3 separate regions of the Homo sapiens genome follow, and all the other regions are linked to region 3. The links come from fine-mapping of genetic effects on gene expression. A gene starts in region 3. Each other region holds a variant in brackets. All regions are shown on one strand. Distances are between the middles of the regions.

What was found. PIP is the estimated chance that this variant, and not a neighbour inherited with it, causes the effect. A credible set is the group of variants that fine-mapping cannot tell apart.
Region 1: its variant is the best candidate, but not a certain one, in a credible set for the expression of ZNF239 in whole blood (INTERVAL, PIP 0.73).
Region 2: its variant is the best candidate, but not a certain one, in a credible set for the expression of ZNF239 in whole blood (TOPMed, PIP 0.66).

What each region holds. Positions count from the first base shown.
Region 1 is chr10:43,525,399-43,533,043 of GRCh38, forward strand. No RefSeq gene overlaps it. Among named protein-coding and RNA genes, the nearest start is that of ZNF239, 45 kb to the right of the region's middle. The variant A/G (reference allele first, on the strand shown) is at 4,298.
Region 2 is chr10:43,537,610-43,545,254 of GRCh38, forward strand. No RefSeq gene overlaps it. Among named protein-coding and RNA genes, the nearest start is that of ZNF239, 33 kb to the right of the region's middle. RefSeq lists an enhancer at 6,585-7,098. The variant G/A (reference allele first, on the strand shown) is at 4,211.
Region 3 is chr10:43,570,160-43,577,804 of GRCh38, forward strand. ZNF239 (zinc finger protein 239) reads right to left here and starts at 4,457. Exons shown (of 4, transcript NM_001099282.2): 1 at 4,381-4,457; 2 at 3,478-3,518. RefSeq lists a silencer at 4,180-4,239.

The sequences.
Region 1 (7,645 bases), 45 kb before region 3:
TTAGTGAGCAGCAGATATTTGATATTTGAAACATCTTACGAATATTTTGAATAAGTTGTAACTTTGAAAATGATTCAGTTTTGGTTATACATGAGAGATTTTAGCTCACTGGAAATGTCAGTTTGGTAATTGAGACTAAAAACTTCCTTTAGAAATATTATACTAAAATTCTTGTTTCTGATATACCAAAATTTTATTGAAAATATTCAGTTACAGACATACTGTGTACTAGGAATCTAACTTCAAAAAGCACAATTAGGTCGAATAGTCATAAATACACCAAATACAAATGCAAAGTGTCATAATGTTGTGTGAGTGTGCTTTATTTTTATTTTTTATTTCATTTTATTTTATTTTCTGTGTTCCGTAAAACTTTACTTACTCAAGTCCAACAGAGCTTAAAGGTTAAAAAAAAAGTACTTACAAAGACAGGCAGCGGGCTGGACTTGGCCTACAGCCACTAATTTGCTGACCTCTGTGCTAAAATCAAGGTGCTGCTAATGCAATCAATACTTTTTAACAGCACCTTACATGCACGCCATTATCCTTCAAAGGCAGACATTTGGCTGGGCGCCGTGGCTCACGCCTGTAATCCCAGCACTTTGGGAGGCCGAGGTGGGCAGATCACGAGGTCAGGATATCGAGACCATTCTGGTTAACACGGTGAAACCCTGTCTCTACTAAAAGTACAAAAAAAATTAGCCAGGCGTGGTGGCGGGTCCCTGTAGTCCCAGCTACTCAGGAGGCTGAGGCAGGAGAATGGCGTGAACCTGGGAGGCGGAGCTTGCAGTGAGCCGAGATCGCTCTGCTGCACTCCAGCCTGGGCGACAGAGTGAGACTCTGTCTCAAAAAAAAAAAAAAAAAAAAGGCAGACCTTTATGCTACATGCTTTCATTTTGATTTTTCAAATGTTCAGTTTGCAGCTTACAATACAAGCGCTGTAAGGGAATAATATCTTGTGGGACTCAATACAGAACTTCAATGTTAAAGCAATTTTTCATTGTGTTAAAGCACAGAAGTGTGAATAAGGCCAGTATAATGGGAAGAAATAATTCTACCCAAATACATCCTATAGTAATAAATCTGCAATCAAGAAATCCACTTGGGTGTTGGAGTAAATGGCCTTGAACAGAAAGAACTAGTATCTAGGAAATGCATAATCATATAAATAAAAATTTCTAAAATAAAGCAAAAGGTTACATTTCTAAGCCTTAAAGTATTTTTCTTTCTTCACACTTGAATTTTTATTCTAAGTGACTGAACAAAAAATACACCATCAAGATGAAAAGGCAATTCAGAAAAGAAATACAAGCACCTAGCAAATAAGTGTAAATATATGCAATCTCCAAAAAAAGTAAATTATAACCAGAAGAAAGAATCGGTTAAAAAAAATTAGGGTGCATATAATTTGCATTCGAAGCTTTCCCTTACAAGCCTGAATCCTCAGTACCAGATCTTAATCTTCTATATCTCAGGTCAGCCCCTCCAAATATAGCTGCCTCATCAGATATTTCAGTTTAGATCTGGCCAGATGATCAGGCTATTCCCCTAACTAGTGTGGGCCACAAAAGACTCAAGTGACATTGAGAAAAATCAGAGAAGATGAACCAGGCTTGGTAGCTCATGCCTGTAATTATCTGGAGGCTGACTGGGGAGGATTGCTCGAGCCTGGGAGTTCAAAGCCATCCTGGGCTCACAAAAAAATGGTGGGGGGCAGGTGGGAATTTTGATGCTTAAATTCCTTGGTTCCTTCTGTAGTGGATTTCTTCTTTTTTTTTTTTATTATACTTTAAGTTCTAGGGTACATGTGCACAATGTGCAGGTTTGATGCATAGGTATACATGTGCCATGTTGGTTTGCTGCATCCATCAACTCATCATTTACATTAGGTATTTCTCCTAATGCTATCCCTCCCCCAGCCCCCCATCCCCTGACAGGCCCTGGTGTGTGATGTTCCCCTTCCTGTGTCCAAGTGATCTCATTGTTCAATTCCCACCCATGAGTGAGAACATGTGGTGTTTGCTTTTCTGTCCTTGTGATAGTTTTTTGAGAATGATGGTTTCCAGCTTCATCCATGTCCCTGCAAAGGACATGAACTCATCATTTTTTATGGTTGCATAGTATTCCATGGTGTACATGTGCCAAATTTTCTTAATCCAGTCTATCATTGATGGACATTTGGGTTGGTTCCAAGTCTTTATTATTGTGAATAGTGCCACAATAAACATATGTGTGCATATGTCTTTATAGTAGCATGATTTATAATCCTTTGGGTGTATATACCCAGTAATGGGATTGCTGGGTCGTATGGTAATTCTAGTTCAAGATCCTTGAGGAATCGCCACACTGTCTTCCACAATGTTTGAACTAATTTACACTCCCACCAACAGTGTAAAAGTGTTCCTATTTCTCCACATCCTCTCCAGCATCTGTTGTTTCCCGACTTTTTAATGATTGCCATTCTAACTGGCAAGAATGGTATCTCATTGTGGTTTTGATTTGTATTTCTCTGATGACCAGTGGTGATGAGCATTTTTTCATGTGTCTGTTGGCTGCATAGATGTCTTCTTTTTTTTTTTTTTTTTGAGACGGAGTCTTGCTCTGTTGCCCAGGCTCGAGTGCAGTGGCGTGATCTTGGCTCACTGCAAGCTCTGCCTCCCGGGTTCATGCCATTCTTCTGCCTTAGCCTCCGGCGCTTGCCACCATGCCCAGCTAATTTTTTTTGTTTTGTATTTTTAGTAGAGACAGGGTTTCACCATGTTAGCCAGGATGGTCTCGATCTCCAGACCTCGTGATCCACCCGCCTCAGCCTCCCAAAGTGCTGGGATGACAGCCATGAGCCACCGCACCCAGACAGATGTCTTCTTTTGAGAAGTGTCTGTTCATATCCTTTGCCCACTTTTTGATGGGGTTGTTTGTTTTTTTTCTTGTAAATTTGTTTGACTTCTTTGTAGATTCTGGATATTAGCCCTTTATCAGATGGGTAGATTGCAAAAATTTTCTCCCATTCTGTAGGTTGCCTGTTCACTCTGATGGTAGTTTCTTTTGCTGTGCAGAAGCTCTTTAGTTTAATTAGATCCCATTTGTCAATTTTGGCTTTTGTTGCCATTGCTTTTGGTGTTTTAGTCATGAAGTCCTTGCCCATGCCAATGTCCTGAATGGCATTGCCTAGGTTTTCTTCTAGGGTTTTTTATGGTTTTAGGTCTAACATTTAAGTCTTTAATCCATCTTGAATTAATTTTTGTATAAGGTGTAAGGAAGGGATCCAGTTTCTGCTTTCTACATATGGCTAGCCAGTTTTCCCAGCACCATTTATTAAATAGGGAATCCTTTCCCCATTTCTTGTTTTTGTCAGGTTTGTCAAAGATCAGATGGTTGTAGATGTGTGGTGTTATTTCTGAGGGCTCTGTTCTGTTCCATTGGTCTACATATCTGTTTTGATACCAGTACCATGCTGTTTTGGTTACTGTAGCCTTGTAGTATAGTTTGAAGTCAGGTAGCTTGATGCCTCCAGCTTTGTTTTTTTTGCTTAGGATTGTCTTGGCAATGCGGGCTCTTTTTTGGTTCTATATGAACTTTAAAGTAGTTTTTTCTAATTCTGTGAAGAAAGTCATTGGTAGCTTGATGGGGATGGCATTGAATCTATAAATTACTTTGGGCATTATGGCCATTTTCACAATATTGATTCTTCCTATCCATGAGCATGGAATATTCTTCCATTTGTTTGTGTCCTCTTATTTTGTTGAGCAGTGGTTTGTAGTTCTCCTTGAAGGGGTCCTTCACATCCCTTGTAAGTTGGATTCCTAGGTATTTTATTGTCTTTGTAGCAATTGTGAATAGGAGTTCACTCATAATTTGGCTCTCTGTTTGTCTGTTATTGGTGTATAGGAATGCTTGTGATTTTTGCACATTGATTTTGTGTCCTGAGACTTTGCTGAAGTTGCTTATCAGCTTAAGGAAATTTTGGGCTGAGATGATGGGGTTTTCTAAATATACAATAATGTCATCTGCAAACAGGGACAATTTGATTTCCTCTTATCCTAATTGAATACCCTTTTTTTCTTTCTCTTGCCTGATTGCCCTGGCCAGAACTTCCAACACTATGTTGAATAGGAGTGGTGAGAGAGGGCATCCCTGTCTTGTGCTGGTTTTCAAAGGGAATGCTTCCAGTTTTTGCCCATTAAGTATGATATTGGCTGTGGGTTTGTCATAAATAGCTCTTATCATTTTGAGATATGTTCCATCAACACCTAGTTTATTGAGAGTTTTTAGCATGAAGGGCTGTTGAATTTTGTCA[A/G]AGGCCTTTTCTGCATCTATTGAGATAATCATGTGGTTTTTTGTTGTTGGTTCTGTTTATGTGATGGATTATGTTTATTGATTTGCATATATTGAACCAGCCTTGCATCCCAGGGATAAAGCCCACTTGATCGTGGTGGATAAGCTTTTTAATGTGCTACTGGATTCAGTTTGCCAGTATTTTATTGAGGATTTTTGCATTGATGTTCATCAGGGATATTGGTCTAAAATTCTCTTTTTTTGTTGTGTCTCTGCCAGGCTTTGGTATCAGGATGATGCTGGCCTCATAAAATGAGTTAGGGAGGATTCCCTCTTTTTCTATTGATTGGAATAGTTTCAGAAGGAATGGTACCAGCTCGTCTTTCTAGCTGTGGTAGAATTCAGCTGTGAATCCGTCTGGTCCTGGACTTTTTTTGGTTGGTAGGCTATTAATTATTGCCTCAATTTGAGAGCCTGTTATTGGTCTATTCAGAGATTCAACTTCTTCCCGGTTTAGTCTTGGGAGAGTGTATGTGTCCAGGAATTTATCCATTTCTTCTAGATTTTCTAGTTTATTTGCATAGAGGTGTTTATAGTATTCTCTGGTGGTAGTTTGTATTTCTGTTAGATCAGTGGTGATATCCCCTTTATCATTTTTTATTGTGTCTATTTGATTCTTTTCTCTTTTCTTCTTTATTAGTCTTGCTAGTGGTCTATCGATTTTGTTGCTCTTTTAAAAAAAACCAGCTCCTGGATTCATTGATTTTTTTGAAGGGTATTTTTGTATCTCTATATTTTTCAGTTCTGCTCTGATCTTAGTTATTTCTTGCCTTCTGCTACCTTTTGAATTTGTTTGCTCTTGCTTCTCTGATTGTTTTAATTGCGATGTTAGGGTGTTGATTTTAGATCTTTCCTGCTTTCTCTTGTGGGCATTTAGTGCTGTAAATTTCCCTCTACACACTGCTTTAAATGTGTCCTAGAGATTCTGATATGTTGTGTCTTTGTTCTCATTGGTTTCAAAGAACATCTTTATTTCTGCCTTCATTTCGTTATTTACCCAGTAGTCATTCCAGGGCAAGTTGTTTAGTTTCCATGTAGTTGTGTGGTTTTGAGTGAGTTTCTTAATCCTGAGTTCTAATTTGATTGCACTGTGATCTGAGACACAGTTTGTTGTGATTTCTTTTACATTTGCTGAGGAGTGCTGTACTTCCAATTATGTGGTCACTTTTAGAATAAGTGCTATGTGGTGATGAGAAGAATGTATATTCTGCTGCTTTGGGCTGGAGAGTTCTGTAGATGTCTATTAGGTCTGCTTGTTGCAGAGCTGAGTTCAGGTCCTGCATATCCTTGTTAACCTTTTGTCTTGTTGATCTGTCTAATATTGACAGAGGGGTGTTAAAGTCTCCCATTATTATTGTGTGGGAGTCTAAGTCTCTTTGTAGGTCTCTAAGGTCTTGCTTTATGAATGTGGATGCTCCTGTATTGGGTGCACATATATTTAGGATAGTTAGCTTTTCTTGTTTAATTGATCCCTTTACCATTATGTAATGGGGTTCTTTGTCTCTTTTGATCTTTGTTGGTTTAAAGTCTGTTTTATCAGAGACTAGGATTGTAACCCCTGCCTTTTTTTGTTTTCCATTTGCTTGGTAGATCTCCTCCATCCCTTTATTTTGAGCCTATATGTGTCTCTGCACATGAGATGGGTCTCCTGAATACAGCACACTGATGGGTCTTGACTCTTTATCCAATTTGCCAGTCTGTGTCTTTTAATTGGAGCATTTAGCCCATTTACATCTAAGGTTAATATTGTTATGTGTGAATTTGATCCTGTCATTATGATGTTAGCTGGTTATTTTGCCCATTAATTGATGTAGTTTCTTCATAGCATCGATGGTCTTTACAATTTGGCATGTTTTTGCAGTGGCTGGTACTGGTTGTTTCTTTCTATGTTTAGTGCTTCCTTCAGGAGCATTTGTAAGGCAGGCCTGGTGGTGACAAAATCTCTCAGCATTTGCTTGTCTGTAAAGGATTTTATTTCTCCTTCACTTATGAAGCTTAGATGGATATGAAATTCTGGGTTGAAAATTCTTTTCTTTAAGAATGTTGAATATTGGCCCCCACTCTCTTCTGGCTTGCAGGGTTTCTGCCGAGAGGTCTGTTCTCTGATGGGCTTCCCTTTGTGGGTAACTCGACCTTTCTCTCTGGCTGCCTTAACATCTTTTCGTTTGTTTCAATCTTGGTGAATCTGACAATTATGTGTCTTGGGGTTGCTCTTCTCGCGGAGTATCTTTGTGGTGTTCTCTTTATTTCCTGAATTTGAATGTTGGTCTGCCTTGCTAGGTTGGGGAAGTTCTCCTGGATAATATCCTGAATAGTGTTTTCCAACTTGGTTCCATTCTCCTTGTCACTTTCATGTACACCAATCAGATGTAGATTTGGTCTTTTCACATAGTCCCATATTTCTTGGAGGCTTTGTTCGTTTCTTTTTAGTCTTTTTTCTCTAACCTTGTCTTCTTGCTTTATTTCATTAATTTGATCTTCAATCATTGATACCCTTTCTTCCACTTGATTGAATTGGCTATTGAAGCTTGTGCATGCGTCACGAAGTTCTCGTGCCATGGTTTTCAACTCCATCAGGTTATTTAAGGTCTTCTCTACACTGTTTATTCTAGTTAGCCATTTGTCTAATTTTTTTTTTAACGTTTTTAGCTTCCTTGCGATGGGTTTGAACATCCTCCTTTAGCTCCGAGAAGTTTGTTATTACCGACCTTCTGAAGCCTACTTCTGTCAACTCGTCAAAGTCATTCTCCATCCAGCTTTTTTCCATTGCTGGCGAGGAGCCACAATCCTTTGGAGGAGAAGAAGCACTCTGATTTTTAGAATTTTTAGCTTTTCTGTTCTAGTTTCTCTGCATCTTTGTGGTTTTATCTACCTTTGATCTTTGATGATGGTGACCTACAGATGGGGTTTTGGTGTAGATGACCTTTTTGTTGATGTTGATGCTATTCCTTTCTGTTTGTTAGTTTTCCTTCTAACAGTCAGGTCCCTCAGCTGCAGGTCTGTTGGTGTTTGCTGGAGTTCCACTCCAGACCCTGTTTGCCTAGGTATCACCAGTGGAGGCTGCAGAACAGCAAATATTGCAGAACAGCAAATATTGTTGCCTGATCCTTCCTCTGGAAGCTTTGTCCCAGAGGGGCAGCCACCTATACGAAGTGTCTGTTGGCCCCTACTGTGAGGTGTCTCCCAGTTAGGCTACATGGGGGTGAGGGACCCACTTGAGGAGGCAGTCTGTCCGTTCTCAGAACTCAAACACTGTGCTGGGAGAACCACTGCTCTCTTCACAGCTGTCAGACAGGGACGTTTAAGTCTG
Region 2 (7,645 bases), 33 kb before region 3:
CTTATTCTCTCACAGTTCTGAAGGCTAGAAGTCCCAGACTGAGTTCCTGGAAGATTAAGTTTCTTGTGAGTGCTCTCTTTGTTCCTGGCTTACAGATGGCCACCTTCTTGCTATGTCCTCACATAGCCAGCCAGCCAGCCTTCCTTCCTTCCTTTCTTCCTTCCTTCCTCTTCCTTCTTCTTCCTTCCTTCTTCTTCTTTTCTTTTTCCTTCCTTCGTTCCTTTGTTGTGGAAAGTCAGGGACCCTGAACGGAGGGACTGGCTGGAGCTGTGGCAAAGGAACATAAATTGTGAAGATTTCATTTTAATATGGACATATATCAGTTCCCAAATAATACTTTTATAATTTCTTACACCTGTCTTTACTTCAATCTCTGAACATAAATTGAGAAGATTTCATTTTAATATGGACATTTATCAATTCCCCAATAATACTTTTATAATTTCTTATGCCTGTCTTTAATCTCTTAATCCTGTTATCTTCATAAGCTGAGAACATACGTCACCTCAGGACTATTGTGATAATTTTGTTAACTGTACAAATTGATTGTAAAACGTGTGTTTGAACAATATGAAATCAGTGCACCTTGAAAAAAACAGAATAACAGTGATTTTCAGGGAACAAGGGAAGACAACCATAAGGTCTGACTGCCTGTGGGGTCAGGCAAAATAGAGCCATATTTTTCATCTTTCAGAGAGCCTATAAAAGGATGTGCAAGTAGGGAAGATATCACTAAATTATTTTCCTAGCAAGAAATATTAATAAATAATACCCTGGGGAAGGAATGCCTTCCTTGCGGGAGGACTATAAGTGGCCGCTCTCGGAGTGTCTGTCTTAGGCAGTCTCTGAGATAAGGACTGAAATACGCCCTGGTCTCCTGCAGTACCCTCAGGCTTACTAGGATTGGGAAACTCCACCATGGTAAATTTGTGGTCAGACTGGTTCTCTGCTCTTGAACCCTGTTTTCTTTTGTTTAAGATGTTTATCAAGACAATATGTGCACAGCTGAACATAGATCCTTATCAGTAGTTCTGATTTTGCCCTTGTCCTGTTTCCTCAAAAGCATGTGATCTTTATTCTGCCTTTTGTCCTTTGAAGCATGTGATCTTTGTGACCTACTCCCTATTCGTACACCCCCTCCCCTTTTGAAATCCTTAATAAAAACTTGCTGGTTTTGTGGCTCAAGTGGACATCACAGTCCTATCGATATGTGATATCACCCCCAGAGGCCCAGCTGTAAAATTCCTCTCTTTGTACTCTTTCCTTTATTTCTCAGCCAGCCATCACTTATGGAAAATAGAAAGAATCTACATTGAAATATTGGGGGCTGTTTCCCCCGATATTTTTCCTTCCTTCTTTCTTTTCTTTCTTTCTCTTTTTTCTCTCTCTTTCTTCTTTCTTTCTCTCTCCTTCCCTTCCTTCCCCTCCTTCTCTTCTCTTCTCTTTCTTTTTTTCAGAGTCTTGCTCTGTCTCACAGGCTGGAGTGTAGTGGTGCCATCTTGGCTCACCACAACTTCCACCTCCCAGGTTCAAGCAATTCTCCTGCCTCAGCCTTCTGAGTAGCTGGGATTACAGGCGTGAGCCATCATGCCCAACTAATTTTTGTATTTTTAATATAGACAGGGTTTCACTGTGTTGGCCAGGCTGGTCTGGAGCTCCTGACTTCAGGTGATCCACCTGCCTCAGCCTCCCAAAGTGCTGGGATTACATGCATGAGCCTCCTCTTTGTCTCTTTGCCTTCTTTCCTTTTTTCCTTCCTTCCTTCCTTCCTTCTTTCCTTCCTTCTCTCTCTTTCTTTCTTCTTTCTCTCTCTCTCTCTTTCTTTCTTGTTTTAAGACAGAATCTTGGCTGGGTGCGGTGGCTCATGCCTGTAATCCCAGCACTTTGGGAGGCTGAGGTGGGTGGATCACGATGTCAGGAGATTGAGACCATCCTGGCTGACATGGTGAAATCCCATCTCTACTAAAAATACAAAAAAAATTAGCCAGGTGTGGTGGTGGATGCCTGTAATCCCAGCTACTCGGGAGGCTGAGGCAGGAGAATGGCATGAACCTGGGAGGTGGAGCTTGCAGTGAGCTGAGATCGCACCACTGCACTCCAGCATGGGTGACAGAGTGAGACTCCATCTCAAAAAAAAAAAAAAAAAAAGAGTCTTGCTCTGTCACCCAGGCTGCAGTGCAGTGGCACAATCTTGACTCACTGCAACTCTGCTTCCCAGGTTCAAGTGATTCTCTTGCCTCAACCTCCTGAGTAATGGGATTATAGGCATGTGCCACCACACCTAGCTAATTTTTGTATTTTTATTAGAGAGGGGGTTTCTTCATGTTGGGCAGGCTAGTCTTGAACTCCTAGCCTCAAGCCATCCACCTGCCTCAGCCTTCCAAAGTGCTGGATTTTGGGTGTGAGCCACTGTGCCTGGTCTCACATAGCCTTTCTTTGGTGCTTCAGTGCAGAGAGAGAGAGAGACAGAGAGCTCCCTGATGTCTCTCCCTATAAGGATACCAATCCTATCAGAGCCGGATGCCACCCTTATGACCTCATTTTACCTTAGTTGCATCCTTAATTGAGGATGTAATTTGGAGGCAGAATCTCCAAATACAGCTGTATTGGGGATTATGACTTCAACATAGGAGACGCAAACATTCAGTCCATAACAAAAGCTTAAAATGAGCCTTTCAGGCCCCAATTACTCAGCCTTTTCTCCTCCCATTGGAGCCTCTATCTCTTCATCTATAAGTGGGTAGAATTATCTATATCTGGAAGAGTGGAACTAAGCCTTGAACAAACCATTATTACTTGTCTAATGTGTGCCCCCTGCCTCGTGCTCAGTGGGTCCAGGAGAGGGAGCTCAGATGTTAAGGCTGCACAAGTACAGCTTAGCGCCTGGGTGCCATCATGTTCTGTGGTCTCAGAGTAACATTCTGTTAAAGAGAAAGGGAAATTGAGAGAGATTAGGAACCACACTCAGTCTCCGTGGAGTGTTAGGGCCCTCATGTCTTCCTCAGCATTGATAGTTCCTGGGTTCATGGCTGATATGGTCAGGATGTGTGTCCCCTCCACATTTCATGTTGAAATATGACCTCCACTGTCAGAGGTCGGGCCTAGTGAGGTACTGGATCATGGGGGCGGATCCCTCATGAATGGCTTAGCACCATTCCCTTGGTGATGAGTGAGTTCTTGGTCAGTTCTCTGGAGAGCTGAGTGCCGGTTGTTTTAAAGAGTTTGGCCCCTCCTTCCTCAGGTCTCTCTTCTTCCTCTCTTGCCATGTGATGCACTGGCTCACCCTTTGCCTTCCAGCATCATTGGAAGCTTCCTGAAGCCCTCAGCAGAAGCTGAGCAGATGCTGGCACCATGCTTCCTGTACAGCCTGCAGAACCATGAGCCAAGTAAGCCTCTTTTCATAAATTACCAGCCTCAGCTGTTCCTTTATGGCAATGCGATAATGGGCTAACACAGTGGCCCTGGGCTCAGGATTAACAAGGCTGTGCTAGCACCAAGCAATCATACTGGAAGGCTGAGGTGGGAGGATCACTTGAGCTGCGGAGGTCAAGGCTGTGATGAGTTTCCTGGAGTCAAATGATTCTCATGCCTCAGCCTCTTGAGTAGCTGGGATTATAGGTCTGCACCATCACACCCAGCTAATTTTTGTATTTTTAGTAGAGACGGGGTTTCACCATGTTGGCCAGGCTGGTCTTGAACTCCTGGCCTCAAGTGATCCTCCTGCTTCAGCCTCACAAAGTGCTGGGATTACTGGCACAAACCACTGTGCCTGGCCCAAGTAATTGTTTTGTATTGATTGAATTTTTCTTTGTTTCTTACACTTCAGTTTAGATTTTAGGGTATATGTATACTTATAAAAAAATGAGATCATGTCTTAAATATTCTTTCTTTTTTGAGACAGAGTCTTGCTCTGTTGCCCAGTGCCCAGGCTGGAGTGTATTGGTGTGGTCTCGGTTCACTGCAACCTCTGCCCTCTGGGTTCACGCGATTCTCCTGCCTAAGCCTCCCAAGTAGCTGGGATTACAGGTGCTCACCACCATGCCCGGCTAATTTTTGTATTTTTAGTAGAGTTGGTAGAGACAGGGTTTCACCATGTTGGCCATGCTGGTCTCAAACTCCCGACCTCAAGTGATCCACCTGGCTCAGCCTCCCAAAGTGCTAGGATTACAGGGGTGAGCCACTGTACCCAGCCAATGTTCTTGTGTAACTT[G/A]CATTTAAAATTTTGTGATATGCTGTGAACTCTTTCCATGCCCCATTCTATCTTGAAAATATGCTTAATGGCCAAATATTTTTCCACTTTTCAAAACTGCATTTGGGTTTACCCATATCCTATATTTTGACATTTAGACAACTTCTGCTTTTGCTCGTGTAGGGGATTATTCCATTAAAAGTAGACAAGATAATTTTGATCAACCTGTGTAATAAAGAAAATGGACAAAGCTGAAAAAAATATTTTAGGCTGGGTGCAGTGGCTCTTGCCTGTAATATCAGCACTTTGGGAGGCCGAGGCAGGCGGATCACATGAGGTCAGGAGTTTGAGACCAGGTTGGCCAACATGGTGAAACCCCATCTCTACCAAAAATACAAAAAATAGCCAGGCTTTGTGGCACATGCCTGTAATCCCAGCTACTGGGGAGGCTGAGGCATGAGAATCACTTGAACCCAGGAGGTGGATGTTGCAGTGGGCCAAGATGCATCAATGCACTACAGCCTGGGTGACAGAGTGAGACTCTGTCTCGAAAAAAATAAAAATACTTTCAACATTCTTTCTAAGCACATAAATAATAAGACAGTGATCACTGGGGTATGATGTAAAAAGAATGGGAATTCCATGTCAGCACAACGTATGAGGCTGCCTTTGCTCTGGAGACTCAGGCTGACCTGAGAGAGGTAATAGGCTGAGGTTTGCTTTTAAGGGTGTTGCAGGGATGATGGGGCAGAAAGAGACCTCTGTGGCCCATGGATGAGATGGACCAGGATACCTCTGCCTTGACCGGACCCTTGGAAGATTCTGTACAGGTAGCATGAACAAAAAGAAAATCAGCCTTCCCACAAATTGCAGTGGACTTCAAGATGTTTGGAAAGCCCAGAACATTCTTCAGCCCTGAAATCTCCTTTTATTTTTATTTTTTTTTTTGAGATATGGTCTTGCTCTGTTGCCCAGGCTGGAGTGCAGTGGTGTGATCATGGCTCACTGCATTCTCAACTTCCTGGGCTCAAATGATCCTCCCAAATAGCTGGGACTACAGGCATGTGCCACCATGCCCAGGAATTTTTTTTTTTTTTTTTTTTTTTGTAGAGATAGGGTCTGTTGTCCAGTTGCCCAGGCTGGTCTCAAACTCTTTGACTCAAGCAATCCTCCTGCCTTGGCCTCCCAAAGTGTTGGGATTATAGGCATGAGGCACTGCACCTAACACGAAATTCCTTTAAAGATATCAAGGAGTGTGTCCCCCGTTAGCAGCAAGAAAAATTCCTCTGGAGGAGGAAACATCATCTTAGGTCTCTCTCTCTTCTTTTTTTTTTTTTTTGAGACGGAGTCTCGCTATGTCATCCAGGCTGGAGAGCAGTGGTGTGATCTCGGCTCACTGCAACCTCCACCTCCCAGGTTCAAGCAATTCTCTGCCTCAGCCTCCAGAGTAGCTGGGATTACAGGAGCCCACTACTATGCTTGGCTAATTTATTTTTATTTTTATTTATTCATTTATTTTTGAGACAGAGTCTTGCTCTGTCCCCCAGGCTGGAGTGCAGTGGCACAATCTCGGCTCACTGCAATCTCTGCCTCCTGGGTTCACGCCATTCTCCTGCCTCAGACTCCCAGGTAGCTGGGATTACAGGTGCCCACCACCACGCCCGGCTAATTTTTTGTATTTTTAGTAGAGACAGCGTTTCATCGTGTTAGCCAGGATGGTCTTGACCTCCTGATCTCGTGATCCACCCGCCTTGGCCTCCCAAAGTGCTGGGATTACAGGAGTGAGCCACCACACCTGGCTTCTTTTTTTTTTTTTTTTTTTAGAGCTAGAAGAGAACATCATACACATAAATTCATTGCATTATACAAATAAACACCTGATTGACAGATCACATCATGTGAAATTTATATAGAAAATAATTGATACAGGTTATAATAATTTATGCAAAGATAATATTAGAAAAATTGGAAAAGATTAAATTATGCAGAATTGAAAATTCACTTAAGAATAAAAGAGGCATCTGGGAGGTGAGGAGTGCCTCTGCCCGGCCGCCCCGTCTGGGAAGTGAGGAGCGCCTCTGCCCGGCTGCCCATCATCTGGGAAGTGAGGAGCACCTCTGCCCGGCTGCCCATCATCTGGGAAGTGAGGAGCACCTCTGCCCTGCCACCCATAGTCTGGGAGGTGAGGAGCGCCTCTGCCTGGCTGCCCTGTCTGGGGAGTGAGGAGCGCCTCTGCCCGGCTGCCCCGTCTGGGGAGTGAGAAGCGCCTCTGCCTGGCTGCTGTGCAATCTTCCAAGTGTGAAGTGACAGCCTTTCTGCAGGTGTACCCAACAGCTCCAAAGAGACAGCGACCATCAAGAACGGGCCATGATGACGATGGCGGTTTTGTCGAAAAGAAAAGGGGGAAATGTGGGGAAAAGAAAGAGAGATCAGATTGTTACTGTGTCTGTGTAGAAAGAAGTAGACATAGGAGACTCCATTTTGTTCTGTACTAAGAGAAATTCTTCTGCCTTGGGATGCTGTTAATCTATTACCTTACCCCCAACCCCGTGCTCTCTGAAACATGTGCTGTGTCCACTCAGGGTTAAATGGATTAAGGGCGGTGCAAGATGTGCTTTGTTAAACAGATGCTTGAAGGCAGCATGCTCGTTAAGAGTCATCACCACTCCCTAATCTCAAGTACCCAGGGACACAAACACTGCAGAAGGCCGCAGGGTCCTCTGCCTAGGAAAACCAGAGACCTTTGTTCACGTGTTTATCTGCTGACCTTCTCTCCACTATTATCCTATGACCCTGCCACATCCCCCTCTCTGAGAAACACCCAAGAATGATCAATAAATACTAAAAAAACAAACAAACAAACAAAAAAAAAGAGGCAGCAGGGCACTGTGGCTCACTGTAATCCCAGAACTTTGGGAGGCTGATGTGGGTGGATTGTCTGAGGTCAGGAGTTCAAGACCAGCCTGGCCAACATGGTGAAACCCCGTCTCTACTAAAAATACAAAAATAAACTGGGCGTGGAGGCAGGCGCCTGTAATCCCAGCTACTCGGGAGGCTGAGGCAGGAGAATCGCTTCAACCCAGGAGGTGGAGGTTGTAGTGAGATGAGATCACGCCACTTCACTCCAGCCTGGGCGAAAGAGCAAAACTTTGTCTCAAAAAATAGAATAAAATAAAACAATAAAATAAAATAAAATAAAATAGGCGTCACTGTTTTGCTGCAGAAAATCCTCTTTCAAAGCAAATTCACTGGTATTGGTATAATTCTGATAAGTGTGTTTACATTTCTAAATGTTTTCAAACATTCTGGTATCCAAATGCTGTGTCAAAAGATGCTAAAATGTCTTGTGCCACCCACCTTCTTACTACAATCTTACATACTTTCATTGTGCCCCATAATGATCTTCATGGATGCTATATCCATTTATAATTCCATGGGTGAGGCCAGGCACAGTGG
Region 3 (7,645 bases):
GTGACATGACTTACCCAACTTGTCACCAGTGGGGAAGGATGAGGGTAAAGATGAAGGTAAGGATGGGTGCTGTCTCCCAAGCTTTCTGTTCAAGGTCACTGGTCTCCATTCTGAGGAAGAGGGCTGGAAAAGGAGGCTCAAGCCCCGGAGTAAAGGTGGGACAAACAAACAGAAGCAAAGGTTGCTGCCTTCAAGCTCCATCACCACATCCTTTAGCAAGGCATGACCCATGGCATATTAAAAGCAAGTGGACTGGCTGCTCTTCCCAACCAGACCTTCTCTTCAGACCACAGAGAAAAAAAAATTTCTTTCTGTTTAAGGCTAATCTCTTCCTGTGCATTCTAGATCAAATCCCTTCTTCTATCTTCAGAGATGCAAGCCCACCAATTATCTTTTCTCTCCCTTATTTTTTTATCCGTCTTCCATTCAGTTGTCTGGATTGTCTAATCCTCCTTCTCTACCTCAACAATATTCAAACCATTTCAGATCCTGTCAATTCTGCCTCCTAAATTTCCCTCCAATGTGTTACCTCTTTTCCATTTCCACTGCCAGTCTTAGTAAGACCCTTATTTTTTTTCTTACCTAGGCTACAATAACTCCTTACCAATTCTTTGTAGTACAATTTTTGTCATCTTCCAGTCCCTAGGTTAGACAACCAGAGTTATTAATTTTTTAAGGTCCTCAAGATAAAATGGCAGGCGGGACTCCATTCTGAGAAGGGAAAGGATATGTTGGTGGACTACTAACTTTGTGGTAGGTAAAAAAAATGACAGGAGTAGACCAAATGAAAAGAATCATTGTGACAAGGGAAAGGAGAAAAGGAAAGGAAATTAGTGCTCCTGTTAAAGCAAGACAAAGGTGGGACTGAAACACTGAATAATCAACAGTCTTCCCAGGTATCAGTGGCACTAAGGAGTCACTCCAAGGCTGTGCTCCTGCTTACAGTTGGGAGAGCAGACTTGATATTCTAAAGGCCAACCAAAGAGGAAGGTCACAAGTTCAATTGTTTCCTGTTTCTATCAGACAAATGTCGACCTCCTCAGAACTACATACATGCCATCATGTGGCCTTCCACTTCTTTCTAGAGCCCATCTCTGCTGTATCTAACAATTTACTTTGAAGTGGAAAAGCAGGAAGAGGCACACTAGATTACCTGGAGTCATTCAACACATTACACTTGAGTCTAGCACAGTCCTTTCTATAGTAAGCCCTAACTTATTGAGTTCTCCCATCCATTTTGGAGCTTTCAGTCTCAGGACAATAGCCTCTTTCTGAAGCATGAGGATGAGTTAGAATTCTCCTCCTCTGAGATCTCATAGCATCTTTCACATCCCTCTACTATAGCTATTAAGTCTCTCCCAAGTTGGCTGGAAGATTCTGAAGGATAGGGGCTACACTCAACTCATCTTTGTTGTTTGAAACAGAGTCTCACTCTGTTGCCCAGGCTGGAGTGCAGTGGCATGATCTCAGCTCACTACAACCTCCACCTCCCGGGTTCAAGAGATTCTCCTGCCTCAGCCTCCCGAGTAGCTGGGATTACAACAGGCATCAACATGACCAGCTAATTTTTGTATTTTTAGTAGAGATGAGGTTTCACTATGTTGGCCAGGCTGGTCTCAACTCCTGACCTCAGGTGATCCTCCCCACTCAGTCTCCCAAAGTACTGGGATTACAGGTGTGAGCCACCATGTCTGGCCTCAACTCATCTTTAAATCCCCAGCAACTACCACAATTGACTTGGAATCTGAAAGATAAATATAAATTCACATTCAATTTAAATGAATAATAATACAACTAAAAGAAAACATAAAGATGGTCAAGCCCAAGACCCTCAGTTTACAGAGAAAAAAACCACAGTTCATAAGGGCGAAGTGACTTACCCAATGTCACAGAGGAAAAGCAGGGTTAACTAAGACTCCCGCCTTTCAGCAGACCTAAGGACAATGTGTGGTACATAGAAAACACACAATGCTTGGAATGAAGTCCTTCCTTTAAATTAAAAAAGTTGTTGTGTAACACACACCAGAATCTCAAAATTTACTAAACTGGCAATCCCCAGTTGCAGCGGCAGTGAATACTTAATCATTAGGGAGCAGGCAGAAGCGAAGGAAGGAAAATGTATTGATTCTACTAAGGTTAATCTCCCTTGAAGTCCTCAATTACTTTTCAGGGCACAGAGAAGCCATGCTCTCAGTACCTCAAGTCAGCTTACTGTCCTCTAAACAGATTTTTTCTAAGAGCTCATGTGTGTGAGGGCTGTATTTGCCAAGCAAAAAGATGGCCTTTGCTGGTAGTGTTAAAAAACATTTTTTTTCCCTTAAAACGCAGTCTGATATTTTATTCAAACAACTTCTGATGTGATGACCTGTTTAGTTAATGGAGAAAGAACAGCCTGAAGGAAGAAAACACGGGGTTTATTTCTGGCCTTCTGCTCTCTGAAACAAAGGACAAGGCACTTTCCTTCGGCTCTCTCAGAGTTAGCCGAGTTAGAGCTCTCCACCATAAAACGCCAGGACAGGGCAAAGAGGGGGCCGACCATCTCAAACACCATGGGATTCTAAGTGGGGGCTGACCATCTCAAATACCCTGGGAGTCTAAGGGTTAATTTTGAGGTAACCTCCTACAGATGGTTTTATGGGGACAACTGAAAACTCTCTTTAAAAAAGTACGACTTGGTAATTTAAAATTTACTGGAACAGTTAAATATGTAGACATGCTAGTGAAAGAGAACAAATCAACCTGAGTATAAAGGATGAATAACTCATTTTACCTACCCTAGAGACACTTATAGTGTATAGAGAGATATTTCACAATAAACCTTTGGATGTACAAAGATCAACAGAATAAAAAAGGAGTGAAACTCTCCTTTCACTAGGTCTGGAAGAGAGAAGGAAGCTTAGTTCTTAAAAAACACCACAGAGAGTTCTGATGCATAGCCTAGTTGAAAAGCATTTCTAGAGTGATTTTGTAACCACTGTGCTGCCATTTAACGAATTTCCTCGTTTTTGACTCATAGTTAATAAATTATCACTATTAATATGCATTTTTTTGTGTACAGGTAATATAATATGTTCATCAAGATGGTAAGCTCCTTGAAGAAAAGCACCGTGGTTTATCATTCTATCTGTTTTGCTGAGACCACTTAGCACTGGGATGAGTATGGAATAGCTTGGAATGACTTTCAATGTGAGTGAAATGTCTGGCAGGAAAAGGCAGGCTTTGAGAGGCTCCCCAGGAGGGCACAGCCCACTGCTCTGAGGAGTGGAATAAATTCTTGGAGGCAGGATGGGCCAGTGAAAACTCTCTGTGCAGACCCTGGTGACATCATCTGCTAGCTACATGTCCTTAGTATCTTAATGTCCCTACATCCATAGCTATAAAATACCGTACTGGGGGCCTGACAATAAAGAAAACAACACATGGCACAGGGACATTTCAGGGAGATGGCATTTTAGGAGAAATGGAACGCCAACTCACCCGGACCCTGGTCATTTCTTACTCCCAGAGGGGATGGATTCCTGGAAAGGCAGAGTTAGGGAAAGAGAAAAAGCCATGAAAATCAAGTCCAGCAAGACTGCGGGGAAAAAGTTACTCCGCTCCTGCCTCTGACGCTTCTTCAGTCACTTCCACCCACACTCCCTCCATCAGGTGAGAGGTGAAGCATTTTCTGTCACCACCTTCATCTCTCTCCACAGGGCTTTCGATTAAACAAGCCAAGTTTTCCCCCCAAAACCAAGAGGCTAGGTAAATTCCGCAGCCGCCGGCAGCTCGAAGCCGTGCCCATTTCCTCTGACTTTCCCGATCTCTGTCCTAAAGTTCTAGTTAAGAGGAGAAGCTTCTCGGGATGGATTTCGGTTGCCCAAGACGCCTTCCCCGACCTCATTCTCAGGAGCCTGGCTCGTTCCTGCGGTGCGGGGGCTCAGATGCAAGCTCTTTTCAGCGAAGGCAGTGCTGCGGACAGAAACCTCAGTCTCTTACAGGAGCCCCCGTCCGTCGCCTAACGTCCACCGAAAACCCCCCTGCAATAACGCCCGTCACAGGCGAGGAAAAGGCCGGCGTGGCCAACCACGAAGCCCCCAGCCGGCCCAGGCCAGAGCTCGGCCAGGAGGGAGGAGGGGCCATCGGAGGCGCGGCCGCTCAGCTGCAGGGCCCCACAGGCTTCGGTGTGGCCGCAGCCCGGCCCCGGGGGCGCAGCAGCTCGGAAATGCGGCGCCGGGACACACGTGCCGCCGCGGGCCGCGCCTCCGCTGGTCGCGTGCCCTACCATCGCCGCCCTCCCGGCTTCCGCAGCTCGGCGGCCCAGCGCCTTACCCGCGGCACACCCATTTCCTGACCCCTGAACGCCTCTGCCAGCGGCTGGGGAAGCCCGGCCAGTCTCACCTCCCACGTGGAACCCCACGCCTGCAGGGGCCAGATTCCGGATGCTGACCGCTCGCGCGCCTAGGGCCCCGAAATACAAGTCCCAGCAAGCCGCGGGCGAACCACGCCCACTTCCGGCGCGGGCCCCTGAACTCTGCGCTGTGCGGAGCGGGATTCTTGGGCGGAGGGGACCATCTTTGAGTCAGCGACGCGTGTATTCAAGTCCTCCTCCTCGTTTTTTATTACAAACAAATAAGAATTATTTTAGGAATACCTGTTAAGGTGATTTTCATTTGTTAAAATACTATTGGGGGAAAAGGATGTAAATACCCATAATTTCATCTTTACCTTTCAAAACATTCTGAAGTGAATATTTGCCATTCGGCATCTTCCATCTCACCTCTGAAGTTCATCCATTTAACAGATATTAATTGAGAGCCAACTGTGTACCAGGAGCTGTTCAAGATGCTTGCACAAAAGTCACTGCCCTATTCTAGTTGGGGAAACAAGCAATCCATAAATATAGTAAATATATGGCGTCGTGTGTGTCATGAGGTGGTACTGAAAGCATAGAGCTGGGCGGGGTGTGGCGAGGTGCGTTTGTGGGTGTGTAGGACTGGAGGTGTACTTTGCAATTTTAAATAGGGGATCTTGGAACAAACACAGGAGGTGAGGGAATTAGACAAGTGGCTCCCAGCAGTCAGAACTCTCCTAAACGCACACAAGGGTTGTTGATACCAGGATTTTACGTTTATTTCACTTCTCACCGAGTGACACAGAGCTACCCATTTGGTCTTTTCCCAATTCCTTTCTTTCAGATTTATTTTGGAGAGGAAAGAGATGTTGCCTGGACCTCTCTTCTACATCCTCCCCCTTCCTTGGTGTATTAGTTTCCAATTGCTGTCACAACAAATTAACACAAACTTAGTAGTATAACAAACATGTATTCTCTTAAACTTCTGGAGGTGCCAAGTCTGAAATCAAGTTTTACTGGGCTTTATAAAGTCAGTGTTGGTGGGGCTAGTTCCTCCTGGAGGTTCTAGATGAGAATATTTCTTTGCCTTTTCCAGTTCCCAGTGACTATTTGCATTCCTTGGCTTATGGCTCGCTCCTTTATCTTCAAAGTGCATGACTGCAACCTCTGCCTTCATCATCACATCACATGCTCAGGCACTGGCTCCTCGTGGGTCCTTCTAATAACGACTGTTGTGATTACATCAGGCCCAGCTGGCTAATCTGGGATAATCTCTTGACGTCAAGATCCTTAATTTAATCACATTTCAAAAAAAATCCCTCTTGCCATAGAAATTAACATCCACAGCTTCTGGGGGTTAGGACATGGACATATTTGGGGGACTATTATTTTCAGCCTGCGATGCTTGGAGAGGCCCACGTCCCCTTCGGTCTCCTCCTCAGAGATGCTGTCTTACCTTTTGCCTGGGGAACACAAAATGTCTCCCTTGGACCTTACTCCTCTCCTCATTCTTCATTGGAAAACCACAGAGCTTTTCCCTATTTAGATTTACCACCCTTGCCCTGACCTTCACTTCCTCATGTGCTCACTTCTCTCCTCACTCAATTTAAGAGGCCATGGAGCATGGTTATGGCCAGTCCTGTGTATGTGCCGTTACCCTTAACTCTCTTGTCCCAGTCTTTCTTGGTTTTATTCTCTTGATGGAAACCCAAATCTGCTTGAATCCAGTTCCTGGCCTGCGCCTGTACGGCAGAGGTTGTTTGAGAAAACCACATGGCTGGGATGATTGGTTTCATTTTCAGTTTATAACCATTAAGTTCAAGTGGGCCCTTCACGCTGCCTGGCTATCCTTCTACATTTCTTAGTCCATCCATTCTCCTAAATGACTATTTCACAGGTTCTACTCTCTTTTCATTATTTATTTATTTATTTTTTTGAGCCAGGCTGGAGTTCAGTAGTGCGATCTTGGCTGACTGCAATCTCTGCTTCCTGGGCACAAGCAACCCTCCCACCTCAGCCTCCTAAGTAGCTGGGACTATAGGCTTGCGCCACCACACCAGGCTAATTTTTGTATTTTTTTTTTTAAGAGATGAAGTTTCACCATGTTGTTCGGGCTGGTCTCCACCTCCTGGGATCAAGCGATCGTCCCACCTCAGCCTCCCAAAGTGCTGGGATTACAGGCTGAGCCACCATGCCTGGTCTTCTACTCTCTTTTCAAGCCGCCAACAACTCCTCCCATCTCACTGAGTGCTGATGACTTTGCTTTCTGTTACTGAGTAAAGAGAACTTCTATACCGCCTCACAGGCACATCTGCCCTCCTCTCTGCATTAGAAACTGTATGCTCTACTTTTCATTCTGAGTCACTGGCCCTAGTTCCTATATGAGAAAATTCTTTTGCACCCTGGATGTTAAATGCTTTCTCATGAATGAGGTCCTTCTCTCTCTTCTGTATTTCAAGATTTTCATTCTGTACTGAATTATCAGCATACTAATGAATACACTGTAATATTGTCCATAAAATAAATAAAACCCCTTACCTTGCACCCTATTTCTCTCCAGCCACTACCTCATTTCTCTGCTTTGCTTTACAGCAAAACTCCTAAAAAAATTGTCCCTAAGGGATGTTTCCAATTTCTTTTCTCCCATATTCTCTCTTTTTTCACATGCAAAACCCAAAATTTAATTTTTAACTTAATTTTAAAAATTGGTATATAATAGATGCACATATTTTGGGGGTACATGTGATAATTTGATTAATATTATGTGTAAAGATCAAAGCAGGGAAATTGGGATATCTATCGCCAAGTATTTGTCTTTTCTGTATGCCGGAAATATTCAAATGATTCTCTTCTGGCTATTTTGAAATGTACAGTAGGTTAATGTTAACCATAGCTAACCTACTGGTTTATTGAACACCAGGTCTTATTTTTTCTGTCTAACTGTGTATTACACCTTGGTATGTTTTGGCTCTGTGTCCCCACCCAAATCTCATCTTGAATTGTAATTCCCACGTGTTGAGGGAGGGACCTGTAATTCCCACAAGTGGAGGGAGGGAGGTGATTGGATCACAAGGGGCAGTTTCCCCCATGGTGTTCTCATGACAGTGAGTGAGCTCTCACAAGATCTGATGGTTTGTGAGATATGTTTGGAAGTTCCTCCTTTGTTCTTCTCTCTCCTGCCACCTTGTGAAGAAGGTGACTGCTTCTTCTTCCAACATGATTGTAAGTTTCCTGAGGCCTCCCCAGCCATGTGGAAGTGTGAGTCAATTAAACCTCTTTTCTTTATAAATTACCCAGTCTCAGGCATTTTTT